Regions from separate parts of the Homo sapiens genome. Here regions 2 and 3 are each linked to region 1. The links come from fine-mapping of genetic effects on gene expression. A gene starts in region 1. Each other region holds a variant in brackets. All regions are shown on one strand. Distances are between the middles of the regions.

Region 1 (4,121 bases):
ATATGCAATAGTTTTTTCCCAAGTAATTTTGGAGTCAGTATTCACATTACTCCAGCTAAGTGTAAACACCAGTATTTTGCACTTTAGCTCATCAAGCTTTCTTTTTTTCAGAAACAGGATCTCACTCTGTTGCCCAGGCTGGAGTGCAGTGGCGTGATCATAGCTCACTACAGCCTCAAACTCCTAGGCTCAAGCAATCCTCCCACCTCACCATCCAGCTTTTCAATTACCACTTTATAAAAATTTCAGAAAGCCAGTTCACATTGGCTCCTTGAAGGTGAATTTATTCAGTTAAAAGTATCCATTAGAAGAGGGAATAAAAGCATAGGACCTAAAAACCTTCTGTGGAAAGGATCTCAACTTTAGAGTCGTCTCTCAAAGGCTCTCAGCAAATATCTAGAGACGTGGTTACATCCAGTTTACGAAGACTGTCGGTGACTTCGGGGTCATACAGTACATGGACAACGAAAGAACAGCAATTGAAATCTTGTACTTGTACCCCACCACCTTCCGCCCTATGATCAACCCACTGTACTCTACTGCCACCTGTGTTCTCTCGGCATTTCCCCAGCCTGGAGGTTTCCCCATTCTCGCCACAAATACCATCCTTCACGAACGATGCCATTTCTAGGATGTTGCAAGTTATGATAAACAACTGTTGAACAAATATTGCTTACAAGCTACAAGTTGAAAACGAGAAGGTTGCTACCTAAGTTCATGAAGAAATCCCCTTTCAAGGATTCCATCTGTTCCTAAAAGGCCAGCCACACAAATTCTAATACTCTGCATTATTATGGCCATTTGGGGACAAGATTTTAAATCTGAAACCATGACAAGAAAAAAAAAAAAAGCAAGATTTAAGAGAGTAAACTCCAGAAACAACAGATCAAACTGCCATTGTGTTTGTTTTTTTTAAATCAGTGAAATATTAAAACAAATGATAAACCCATGCCAACCTCACAAAGTTTCCTCATTCCTTGGAATTCAAACACCACCGATGGCATCATTTTATGATAATCCTTTGGGTATTTCACGTAAGTAATTAGACACAATGTAAAGCCAGTGACTGAGGGACTTAAACAAACTGTCCCCTCCGAGAGCCCAGTTGGAGCTTCCGACACTGACCTTATTCTCCTCTCAATTTTAACCCTCCTCAACCACTCAATCCATCCAAAAACGTCTGTGACAGTCGTGGCTCTAAAACCGCGCAGAACTTGACTACAGAACGGTCGGTGACAACTCCACATATGATTTATCCAAATTAATTTATTTTTTTGAATTCTAGTCCCATGCTCCCTCGGCTGTTTGCCCCGAACCCGTAGTCTACACCACTTCACCGACGTGAAGACCACCTTTCATTGTTTCTATGGGTCTCAGCATCCTTCCCTCCGTCCAGCTCTGTTCTCGCCGCACAAATGTCATTTCTAGCGTACCACCCTCCATTCCGCCCGGTGGGCAGCGCAGGGGCTTTCGGGTCCCAGTGGCCAGTTTCCTGGAGTCGGTCCCCTATGCACAGCCATTTTCTAGTTAAACGCTCTCTCTGCCACCGAGGGGGAAAAGGAACTTTTCCCCCCTTTCATGTCTCATGGGCTGGCCTCTGAACCCCTCGTGGAGAAGCCAACCCCGGCTCCAACTCCCCGGCAGGAGCGCGCTGCCGCCCAGGAGAGACAGCCGAGCGGCACAGCGGAGGCCGGTGCCAGGACAAGGGGGTGTGCGCTCTTCCCGCAGGCGCCCACCCTCACTTTTCCCCTCTGCAGTCCCCACCCGGGCGCACCGCCTCCAACCCGGTCTCCCCCGCCCCAGGCCCTGCCAAGCCGGGGCTGCTGAGGGAAAGAGGGCGCCGGGAAGCGGGAGGGATGGAAGTCAAGGAGAGTGAGCCCGCAGTCGCCGTGCCACTGGCCCTGCGGCGCGGGCGCAGGGCGCACGGGACTCCGCAGCAGGCGCCCCGCTGCAGATGCCGCGGCAGCTGCTGCAGGTGTGGCTGCGGCTGAGCGGGCAGCAGTGGCCGCGGAGCCCCGGGGCCGGGAGCAGAGGAGAAGCCGCCGGGGGAACCCGCAGCCGCTCGCCGCACGCTGCTGCCGCTACCCGGGTGTTTCCCCAGCACTCTCGTGCTGCCCCGGAATCCGGGGCAAAGGCAAGGAAGAAAGCTGGGCTCACCAGTGGTGCGCGCGGCGCTCGCCTCGGCTCCGGCGCCCAGCGGCTCTGCTCCAGTCTCGCCCTTCCCGGAGCGCCCAGATCAGATGCGGTTACAGCGCACTAGCTTCCTACTTGAGACCAGAACGGGCTCCGGCAACTGAGCATGCTCAGTGCCGTTCCGCGAGTCCCGCGCAGGGAGCGGCGCTGACGAGATTCCACTTCTCCAGGCTTTGGCAGCGGCTGCGCGAGGGAAGGCTGGAGGGACCCGGCGGGGAGGGGGCCGAATGGGAGAAAGGCGGGGCCGGGGGGTGGGGGCCGGGCAGAAGGAGGCGGGCCGCGCTCCCAGGGCGACCCCTGCAGGTGGAGGCGGCAGGGCCTGCGGGAGGCACCCTCCCCAATCGCCTGGGAACACGCAGGGAGGCAATGGGTCCCCCAGTAAGACCCAAAGGCAGGACGTGCAGTGCAGCCCGGGTATCCCCTCCGTGTGGCTGGTGTCTGTCTGCACCAAAAGGCAGTTGGGTTACCTTAGCCCTGGCTTTTCTCCCACACGCCAGCATTCCCTTGCAATAGGAAAATGTCCCCACAGGAGAGCTGCCCACACCCACCCAGGCTAACTGCAAGTTGTAGGCGACACCTTCTCCTTCCTTCTACCTCCTATCCCCACCCCCAGGCATATGCCGCACACACACTCTTCTTTGATCCGGAAATCACAAGATAATATCAGGGGAGAGATACAACTGCCGGAGAGGAAAAGGAGGTTTTCCTTTCCATTGCCAATAATATTATCTATAACTCTAATTGTAAGCGTGCAAACAAAGCCCTGATAAGAGTCGAGTCTCAGTAAACGGTAAACCGTGCTCTGCCCCAGACGCTGTGAATGACATCCCCAAAGTATCCTTAGGATTGCTCTTCACCAGGGCAGCGGTTGTCAAACTGGAGCCTGGATCAGAATCGCCTGGAGGGTTTGCTGAAGTACAAATCCCTGAGTCCCAATCTGTGTCTCTGAATGGGTAGATATGTGGTGGGGCCCAAGCATCTGTATATCTAACAAGTTCCCATGGGATGCTGATGCTGCTGGTGTGAGGACTATACACTTTAGAGAACCCTACCCATACACACACACACACACAGTCCTACCAAGGATCTCGAATTAAAAACTCACGTGATTCTTCCTATGAGGACTCTATGCAGTGGGGTGGGCATTACTTTATTCTTTCCTACATGAGTTTATTAAGGATCCACGAGGTCTTGTACTAGGCCTGAGGATAGTGGTGAATTTAAAAGCCCAGGCCCCTGCTTTCATGGAATTTATAGTCCGGCCGGGTGACAGACACCTATCAAATAATCACTCAAAACGGTTATTTCAAACAGGTAGAGTGCTGGGAGGGAAATGCACAAGGTGCGAATAGAGTGTATAGAGGGACCCTCATGCAGACTCAGTGAGGTTGTTACGAAGGGATGGGAGGGGGGCTGCCTTGTGGAAGGTGGTTTCTGACTTTTGCACTCCAATAACCTCTCCAATTAACAATTATCTCCCTCAGACCGAGCTGGAGGCCAGCAATCATGTCCCTCCTTCCTACAACATAAAAACAATACTGTCACAGAGAAATCCCTATAAATTCATGAAAAGTGTTTACTCTTGGGACTGAGTCTCTGCACCCCAAGATCCACCTAACACGTCCGTGGACCAAGGACAGTCGAGGGCCACAGTAGACCTCTTGGGGAAAATACAGGCTCTCTGAACTGGAGAGCCTGTGGTTCTTAGTCTGTGATCTTCAAGGCCAAAGAGGCAAGGAAACCAGCCCAAGACCACCATTCCCGTCAGGAGCGGAGATCGACCAGCCTCCAACCTTGCAGACGGGTCCTCTTTCCAAGGCACTCTATTCCCGGACCTCACAGCTCCCCTCAGATCCCCGGAACCCGGCCTGGCCACCCCGCTCTCTCTCGGGGGTCCGGGGTAGGTGAGCGGAGCCTGCCCCTCCCAG
Region 2 (4,121 bases), 220 kb before region 1:
AAATTGTGCTAGGCCAGAGTAAGTGATCCTATTTATTTTTTTAAAAATATGTATCCAAAAAGTACAGGGGGAAAAAAAACCTATAGTGTTCTAACTATAGCAATTTCCTCCTGCTTTTATCCCTGTGTCTGAAGTGAGGTCATTTTTGTTTGTTTTTGGCAAGTGAACAGAGAAAAGAAGAAAGAAAAACACACACACACACCCTAGACTTTTCACCCCCTCCTCCTAAAACAGACACACTTGTTAATTTACAGCTTTGAAAATCATCTGGGTAGTTCTTCCATAATTCACCATCTTCCTTGGTTTTCTAGGATTTTTTTTAGAACCTTCAGACCCCAGAGGGCATTTCACTTGAAGATGCTACTCGTCTCATCCCTTCAGAAGGTGGGCTGAGGTTTCCTTAAGAATCTTCTATGAGAGTGGTCTGCAATTAGAAAGTTATAACAATTCTACCTGTGAGGGTGTTCTACAATCAGAACACTGCTCTCACTCTCCCTCCTCCTCCCCATCTCTCTCTCTCACACTCACGCACAGACACCACACACACCACACTCACACTGAAATTAAGAGTGAAAACTGTTAAGGCTAAAAATACTACAGAGAGAAAAGCATCTTTGCTAACACTTAATACTCAGAACAACTTTTTGAAAGTGAAAATGACGATGCTTTACCTGACTGATTATCAATGCAGCTGCCTTTTTTGTTTGTTGCTTGTTTTTAAGAGACAGGGTCTCACTCTGTTGCACAAGCTGGAAGCCAGTGGCATAATTATAGCCTTGACCACCTGGGCCCAAGTGACATCCTCTGCCTCAGCCTCCCGAGTAGCTGGTACTAAAGGTGCACGGCACTACACTTAGCTAATTTTATTTATTTATTTATTTTTGGTAGAGATGGGGGGGGGTCTTTCTATGTTGCCCATGCTGGTCTCAAACTCCTAGCCTCAAACTATCCTCCCACCTCAGCCTCCCAAAGCACTGGGATTACAGGTGTGAGCCACTGCACCAGATTGACACAGCTTTTTAGTTCGCTTCAGCAGCTATAGATTTACCTTCTGATGTAGTTAAACAACATTTTAGATACGTGCTGAACAGCAGTCTTGGACACCTCATTAATATGTAGTAAGGAAGAGAGCAAACCAACACTTGGAAAATTGTTCAATGAGGTGTGTGAAATGACTGGATGGAAACGCTGGTAACCCCTGGAAGTAACGCGGGAAGTATGAAGCCAGCGAGCAGGAGTATCACGAGCAGAAGACCGACCCCCGATGTCCAGGCCAGGGAGCTGCACCACCCTCAGGACCCATCACCTTCCTCACCCCTTCAAGTAAGACCGAGGCTCATGGGCAATGACGAACAAGCCAAACCACAGGGCCGGATGGAGATAGGCCGGCCTGCCATGTGCAGGATCTCTACGTTGTGAAACACTGTCTTCCTGCCTACTTGTTCTAGTCTACTCTGCTGCTTATCTGAAGTTATTTTCTGTTTGTGTACACAATCGTAGTCCCTCTTTTACTCTCTCTCTGTGCTTTTCCTTCAGTGGGAGAATTAATTTTCCATACCAGAATATTTATAAAATCCAATTTTTGCTGAGCCCTTACTACATGGCAATCACTACGTTCTGTGCCCCACATGTCTTGTTTCAGTTAATCATCACAACCACCCCACAAGGCAGAGACTATTATTAACCCTATTTGACAGAGGAGGAAACGTATGGTGTTAAGTGACTCAGCCACAATCATCCATTTAGTAATAGCACAGCTGGGATTTAAATATTCA[G/A]TGTTCATAGTGCAGTAAAGCTTATGGCACAAATTCCATTTTAGGGACAAGAACAAGAGAAGAGATTTCCAGTAGTTTAATTTCTGGAGCACAGGAGCAATTAAGAACTCTTCTCTCTTTTTTTTTTTTTTTTTTTTTTTTAACAAAAATGTTTTTTGAGACAGGGTTACCCTTTGTCTCCCAGGCTGAAGTGCAGTGGTGTGATCTTGGCTCACTGCAGCCTTGACCTCCGGGGCTCAAGGAGATCCTCCCACCTCAGCTTCCTGAGTAGCTGGGACTACAGGCACGTGCCATCATACCCAGCTAATTTTTTGTTTATTTTTTATAGAGATGAAGTCTCATTATGTTGCCCAGGCTGGTCTCAAACTCCTGGCCTCAAGCAATCCTCCTGCCTCAACCTCCCAAAGTGCTGGGATTACAGCATAAGCCATCATGCCTGGCCACTTCTACTTGATTCTATCAAAAACAAAAGAAAATATTATTTTTTAAAAGAAAATAAATGTTTTCCACGTTTTTCATTAAGGCTGTGATTCTTGTTAAATGTTAGCCAGATCAGTATCCATTATAATAGGAACACAGCACTTCAAACACAACAGAAGGCCCTAACTAAAGCAGTTCCTGTGTCAGAATCTGAGCCATGCTTCTCAAATGATGCATAGAGGAGGAAGTTAAAATGCAGGTTCCTGAGACCCACTACCTGCGTCTGAGTCTGTAAGGCACAGGTAGGGCCCAGGTATCTACATTTAAAGAAACACCTAGGAGAGGCTGGGCGCGGTAGCTCACACCTGTAATCCCAGCACTTTGGGAGGCCAAGGCAGGCAGATCACAAGGTCAGAAGATCAAGACCATCCTGTGAATGGTGAAGCCCCGTCTCTACTAAAAATTACAAAAAATTAGCCGGGCACGGTAGCGGGCGCCTGTAGTCCCAGCTACTCGGGAGGCTGAGGAAGGAGAATGGCGTGAACCTGGGAGGTGGAGCTTGCAGTGAGCCGAGATCGCGCCACTGCACTCCAGCCTGGGCAACAGAGCAAGACTCATCTCAAAAAAAAAAAAAAGAAACACCTAGGAGTTCTGATGCAGACAGACTACAGGCCAAACTTACTAGCTGCAACGAGATTTTCTCCAAGACTTGCAAATGAAGAAAATAAGATTGCTCTTGAAGTTAAAGTATGATAGTTGAATCAGTCAATGGATCAAAACCAAGAAATGGAGTAAGAGTGAGATAAGATGTCTCCCAAACATAGTATGACTTATCTTTAACTCAGTAGAAAATATTACTGTATCTTGGGCCGGGTGCAGTGACTCATGCCTGTAATCCCAGCACTTTGGGAGGGTGAGGTGGGCAGGATCATGAGGTCAAGAGATTGACACCATCCTGGCTAACATGGTGAAACCCCATCTCTACTAAAAATACAAAATATTAGCCAGGCGTGGTGGCACATGCCTATAGTCCCAGCTACTCGGGAAGCTGAGGGAGGAGAATCGCTTGAACCTGGGAGGCGGAGGTAGCAGTGAGTCAAGATTGTGCCACTACACTCCAGCCTGGGGCGACAGAGCAAGACTCCGGAAAAAAAAAAAAAGAAAAGAAAAGAAGAAAGGAAAAAGGAAGGAAGGAGAGAGAGAAGGAGGGAGGGAGGGAAGGAGGGAAAGAAATAAAGAAGGAAAATATTACTGTATCTTAAGAAAGATTGTATTGATCAAAAATGTAAGTACCTTAAAAAAAAAAGCAATCATTCCCTTTTCTCTGAAGAGGGACTCTTAGGCAATGCACTTCAAGGATTCTAGGTCCCAAGTAGCATCATCTCAAGGGAAAGAAGGACAGCGCGCCTCAGACTATCCCAGCCTGAGACCATTTAAATATTTGATTCATCCAACACCCCTTTGGCTGAAACCATGTTCCCCAAGCAAACAAGCTTATGCTTGGGTTTCCTATGCAGTTGAGTAATTATTTCTATTTGGAAAATAATACACTGGCATTGAGAATGTGCACTGAACATGCAGTACCAAGAAATCTAACACCTAGGAGAGTGGTAATTCTCATAACAAATTAATAGATTCTTATTTTGGCTCCAGTGTTTCTTATTTTGGCTTTAGTATTTCTCGAGAAGTTGATTAATAAGTCCATCCGTCAGAAATGGATCTTTTTTTTGAGACAGAGTCTTGCTCTGTTGCTCAGGCTGGAGTGTAGTGGCACCATCATAGTTTCAAATGCCAGGGTCAAGCGATCTTCTGGCCTTAGCATCCTGAGTAGCTGGGACCACAGGTATGTGCCACTATATCTGGCTAATGTTTAAAAAAAAAAAATTTTTTTTTTTTTTTGAAACAGACTCACTTTGTTGCCCAGGC
Region 3 (4,121 bases), 280 kb before region 1:
TTTCTTCAAGTGTCAGGGAGATTAGGAAAGAGAAAATTGAGGGATAATTACTTATTAAATGGCTCTGGGTTGATGGTTTGTAAAAACTGGACAATGATCCAAAGTCATTATTTGGATCTAAGAATATAACCTGGTGGCTGAAAGCAAGTCTTTACAAACCTTGGCTTCTGGGTCACTGTTGATACTACAAGAATCATCATCATCAGGGTGTGGGGCATTTCTAGGCAGAAAAACAGAAAAGTGGACTTAGAATTCTATTGCAAACTATCTGCACAAAGCCATACATTGACAGCAGGTCGATCCTACTAATGTCCTACCTGAGTTTCAAAGATGCATAGCGTAGGGTTGCTCCTTCAAACTCTTTTAAACTGGGGTCCGGGTTAACAGTGGCTGCATGCAAATCCTAGAGGAAAATAGAACCTTGTTAATGTACAATGGGGGAGAAGACCATTCATTGCCTCAAATATCAAAGGGGAGAAACGTCTTCCCAGCAAGAGGCAGAGAGTGTACGTGAGCTTAGGCAGAGAAAGGCATGCAAGGACTGTTGAATGCTGACTGGTGCAAACTCCTGTTCTTACAAAACAACGGGGAACCTAGGGCATTCACAATGGGAGACACCAAAAAAAGGCAACAGGAGTGTGAGCTGAATGCCCCTAGCAAGAAGCCCGATCACTGTGTCCCTGCAGAATGCATGATATTCACAAAGAAGAAAAATATACAGCCACAGCCATGCAGAAAGGATAAAATATTAAATGATCTAAGATCTGACAATATACTTGCCTTCCAAATGTCACTATTAATCTTTCCCCCATTCAGAACAGCAAAATCACTCCATGGCTGTTTCTAGACATATAATTATTCACATAGGAAAAAAGCACATTGATTTAAAGAAAAAGAAAAGAAAAGAAAAAAAAAAAACACAAGACACTGTTGTTAGCATTGATATTCACAAGATGGGTTAGGGAACAAGTTAACTCTAACAGCAACTTGTTGGCTCACTCCCTCTATGTCTAGATTATCACCTGAAGACGAGGGCAGGAGAGTGATGGTGCTTTAATTACTTACCAAATAAATGACTAAACATTATTAGAAGCAGACAGTGAAGTTATTTCCTTAAGGTAATTTTAAAAGCAAACAATATAATTCCAAGTATTCAATAACTAGCATACCTAATTCCATAATAATCATTTTCCTCCCTATAAACCAAACAGAACTGTTTTCTGGTGGTGGGGGTGGAATGAGGGACGGGTACCGTGTTTGTTTGGAAACTAGGGAATGCCCATGGCTGAGGGCCCCAAAAGTTGGGGGTCAAGATATTTTCACTTAAAAGAAAAAAAGGAGAATGATGGGGAGAGAGGGTTAGTGAAGAACACAGACTGACATCAACACTTGGCGGAAATTTAACCTAACAAAAAACAACTCTAAACAGTCTAACATAAATTTCTCTAATTCATAAAAGCTCTACTTTTTTTTTTTTGCTTCAAAAGCTTCTTCACAAATTAATACTTGATCATGAAATGATTTTCTAAACGTAATTATAGTGCAAGGCATGAAGCCTGGCTTTGTTGCGAGAGCTCTTGCAATAACTGATTTCCAAATCTAAACAACTGCTCCATCCACCTCAGACAATGAGAAAATGTCTTTTCTTTCTACTAGGCCTAGTGAATATTCAAGTATTTTTCATCTAAGATTTGGGGAAATAAGCAAGCAAGGCTAATAAAACTCAGGGACAGTCTTGTGAATTGCTTTACTGACTGGTTAGGCAAATCTGTTTGTATAAGAAATCAACCATCAAAACTTTTCAGCTAAATCACTTTTCAACTGAAGTTCTTTGAAAATGAGAAGTGAATAATGACCCATAACTTTTACTCACAACATTGATACAGTTTTAAAAACCACTAAAAGCAGAAAAAAACTAAGCTTAAATGTCTTGTGCGTCGAAAGATGCATTTATTTTGTTTAAAAATTTTTTTGAGACAGGGTCTCACTCTGTCACCCAGGCTGGAGTGCAGTGGCCCAATCACAGCTCACTGTAGCCTTGACCTCCTGGCTCAAGCAATCCTCCTGCCTTGGCCTCCTGAGTAGCTGGGACTATTCAGGTGCATGCTACTACACCTGGCTAATTTTTTAAAACTTTTTTGTTGAGATGGGGGTTCCATTATGCTACCCAGGCTGGTCTTGAACTCCTGAGCTCAAGTGATCCTCCCACTTAGGCCTTCCAAAGTGCTGGGATTACAGGCGTAAGCCATGGCGCCTGGTGCAACATGCACTTACCAAACTCTGCAAGCCTCTCTGAGAGCAAAGACACT[T/G]CAAATTTAGACCCATTATTACTATTGCACATGTGGTGTCATTTTCATTTTTGGTCTAGGCACCTAAACTGCAGCTTTTCAAAATAAAATGGGAACTTAGACCACTATATTTACTTTTAAAAAATAATTTCTCTTAATGAATAAAGGGCAGGAATGTTGCCCAATCCCTTACCTTTCCCCTCACTCTACCCCCAGAAGCAGTGTTCAGTCTTTATGAAGAGAAAATTAATAACCTAGGGCAATCTTAACCTGTTAGCTCGGAGGAGCTATGAACCCCTGAAATGGGTGCGGGGTTTTGTACATGTACATTTTCCTGAGAGAAAGATGCCCAATTTTTCTCATATTTCCAGATGGGCCAGTGACCAATTTCGGTTTGGACCACTGTAGGGCTACTAATATGGATGTGAGATGAGGACCTGAAATATCAAGTACAAAATAAAATTTTAAGCTAGAATTTCTTTTTCAAAAAGAAAACAAGCTTATATGGCCTCAAATTGTCATCACTGTTTACATGTGAGCAATATTTGTTGTTAAGTTGAACTTTAAAAAAGGATAATCAGATGATGAATTAGGAAGACCCAAGATAATTGTGTCTTTGTGGAGAAATTTATAAAGAAACAAGAAAAACAAAGTTACCTCACAAAAAGAATTTCAGAAATTATCCCCAAGGGACCCTATATGTTGAGGCTACAGAAAGTAAAAGAAGAGTATTTTCTAAAACAAGTACTCAGAAAAGTCTTCAGTACCTAATTAAAACAGTTCTCTGCGTGTGTGTGGTTTTTAAAATTTTTAATGCATTTACTCTTTGGACATAAGGGTATCTGTAAAGCAAAAGCTAAAAACAGTATTAAGACTGTCAGAATCCAGCTCTCATGTTATGGAAACATGAGTTAGATGGCAAATGTCCAACAATCACCTTTTACAGATTTAAATAAACAAAGGCTCTGTATAGTGATTTTACAAAAACTTAACACGGGCACTCTTAAGGAAATCCTTTAGCACAAAACTCAGTAAGGAAATGGAAACTGGCATTATATGTGTTATGACTGGGCCAAAGATCTTTTTTCCCCTCCTATATTTACAACTATTCATTTACATCAAATATGACAAACTTTCTCCAATGTATAAGTGACCATAATTTTTCTTTTTTAAAAAATTAAAGTCAATGAAAGACAAAGTCACTTTGTCTTAAATTTTAAGAATTACATGGTCTATTCATCTAACTTTTTTAATTAAGAAGAGAGAATATTTTCTATATTTGGCTAATAAGTTTTGCTAATAATTTTTAGTTAACAAATTTTTAAAAAAGCACAACCCAACAGAGATTCTTTGGTTCTACAGAAAGTCTGTATCCACCCCCGTAGGGGTGGGAGAGATGAAGGAGGAAGAGGAGAGACAAAGAGAAAAACATTAAAAGGGGAAAAAGCAAGTTGGACAATATGCCTCAGGTAAGACAAACACAAAGATGGGGAAAGAGGTGGTAACGGACCAACAGGGACCATCTTCTATGAGCAACAAGCTTCCATGAGCCTGGTAACCCTCCAGGCAATGCAGCTAAAGCCTTGCACAGCTGAGTGACATTCTGGTACCACAGTCATAGCTGGGACACCCTCCTGGTGCTTGTCCTGACCTTGTCCAGGCTGCAACCTCCCTTTCTCTGATTACTTGATCCTGCTCAGTTCTGGGAGAGCCTTGGAGCCTTAGCTCCTCAGAGACAGTGTGTCTAGGGGGACTGACCCAATGCCCGGGGTATGGCACTCCTCAAAACCCTTGAGCACCACACGGAAGCTGTGTGAGGCTGGACCCAGTAAG

Evidence for each region. PIP is the estimated chance that this variant, and not a neighbour inherited with it, causes the effect.
Region 2: its variant is the best candidate, but not a certain one, in a credible set for the expression of APBB2 in lung (TOPMed, PIP 0.63).
Region 3: its variant is the best candidate, but not a certain one, in a credible set for the expression of APBB2 in aorta (GTEx, PIP 0.54).

The regions. Positions count from the first base shown.
Region 1 is chr4:41,212,248-41,216,368 of GRCh38, forward strand. APBB2 (amyloid beta precursor protein binding family B member 2) reads right to left here and starts at 2,295. Exons shown (of 18, transcript NM_004307.2): 1 at 2,158-2,295. RefSeq lists an enhancer at 588-667 and silencers at 1,670-1,979, 2,390-2,559.
Region 2 is chr4:40,991,470-40,995,590 of GRCh38, forward strand. The region is part of intron 6 of APBB2 (amyloid beta precursor protein binding family B member 2); the gene reads right to left. Among named protein-coding and RNA genes, the nearest start is that of APBB2, 220 kb to the right of the region's middle. The variant G/A (reference allele first, on the strand shown) is at 1,776.
Region 3 is chr4:40,934,297-40,938,417 of GRCh38, forward strand. It overlaps APBB2 (amyloid beta precursor protein binding family B member 2), which reads right to left. Exons shown (of 18, transcript NM_004307.2): 8 at 781-843; 9 at 318-403; 10 at 160-220. Among named protein-coding and RNA genes, the nearest start is that of NSUN7, 190 kb to the left of the region's middle. The variant T/G (reference allele first, on the strand shown) is at 2,310.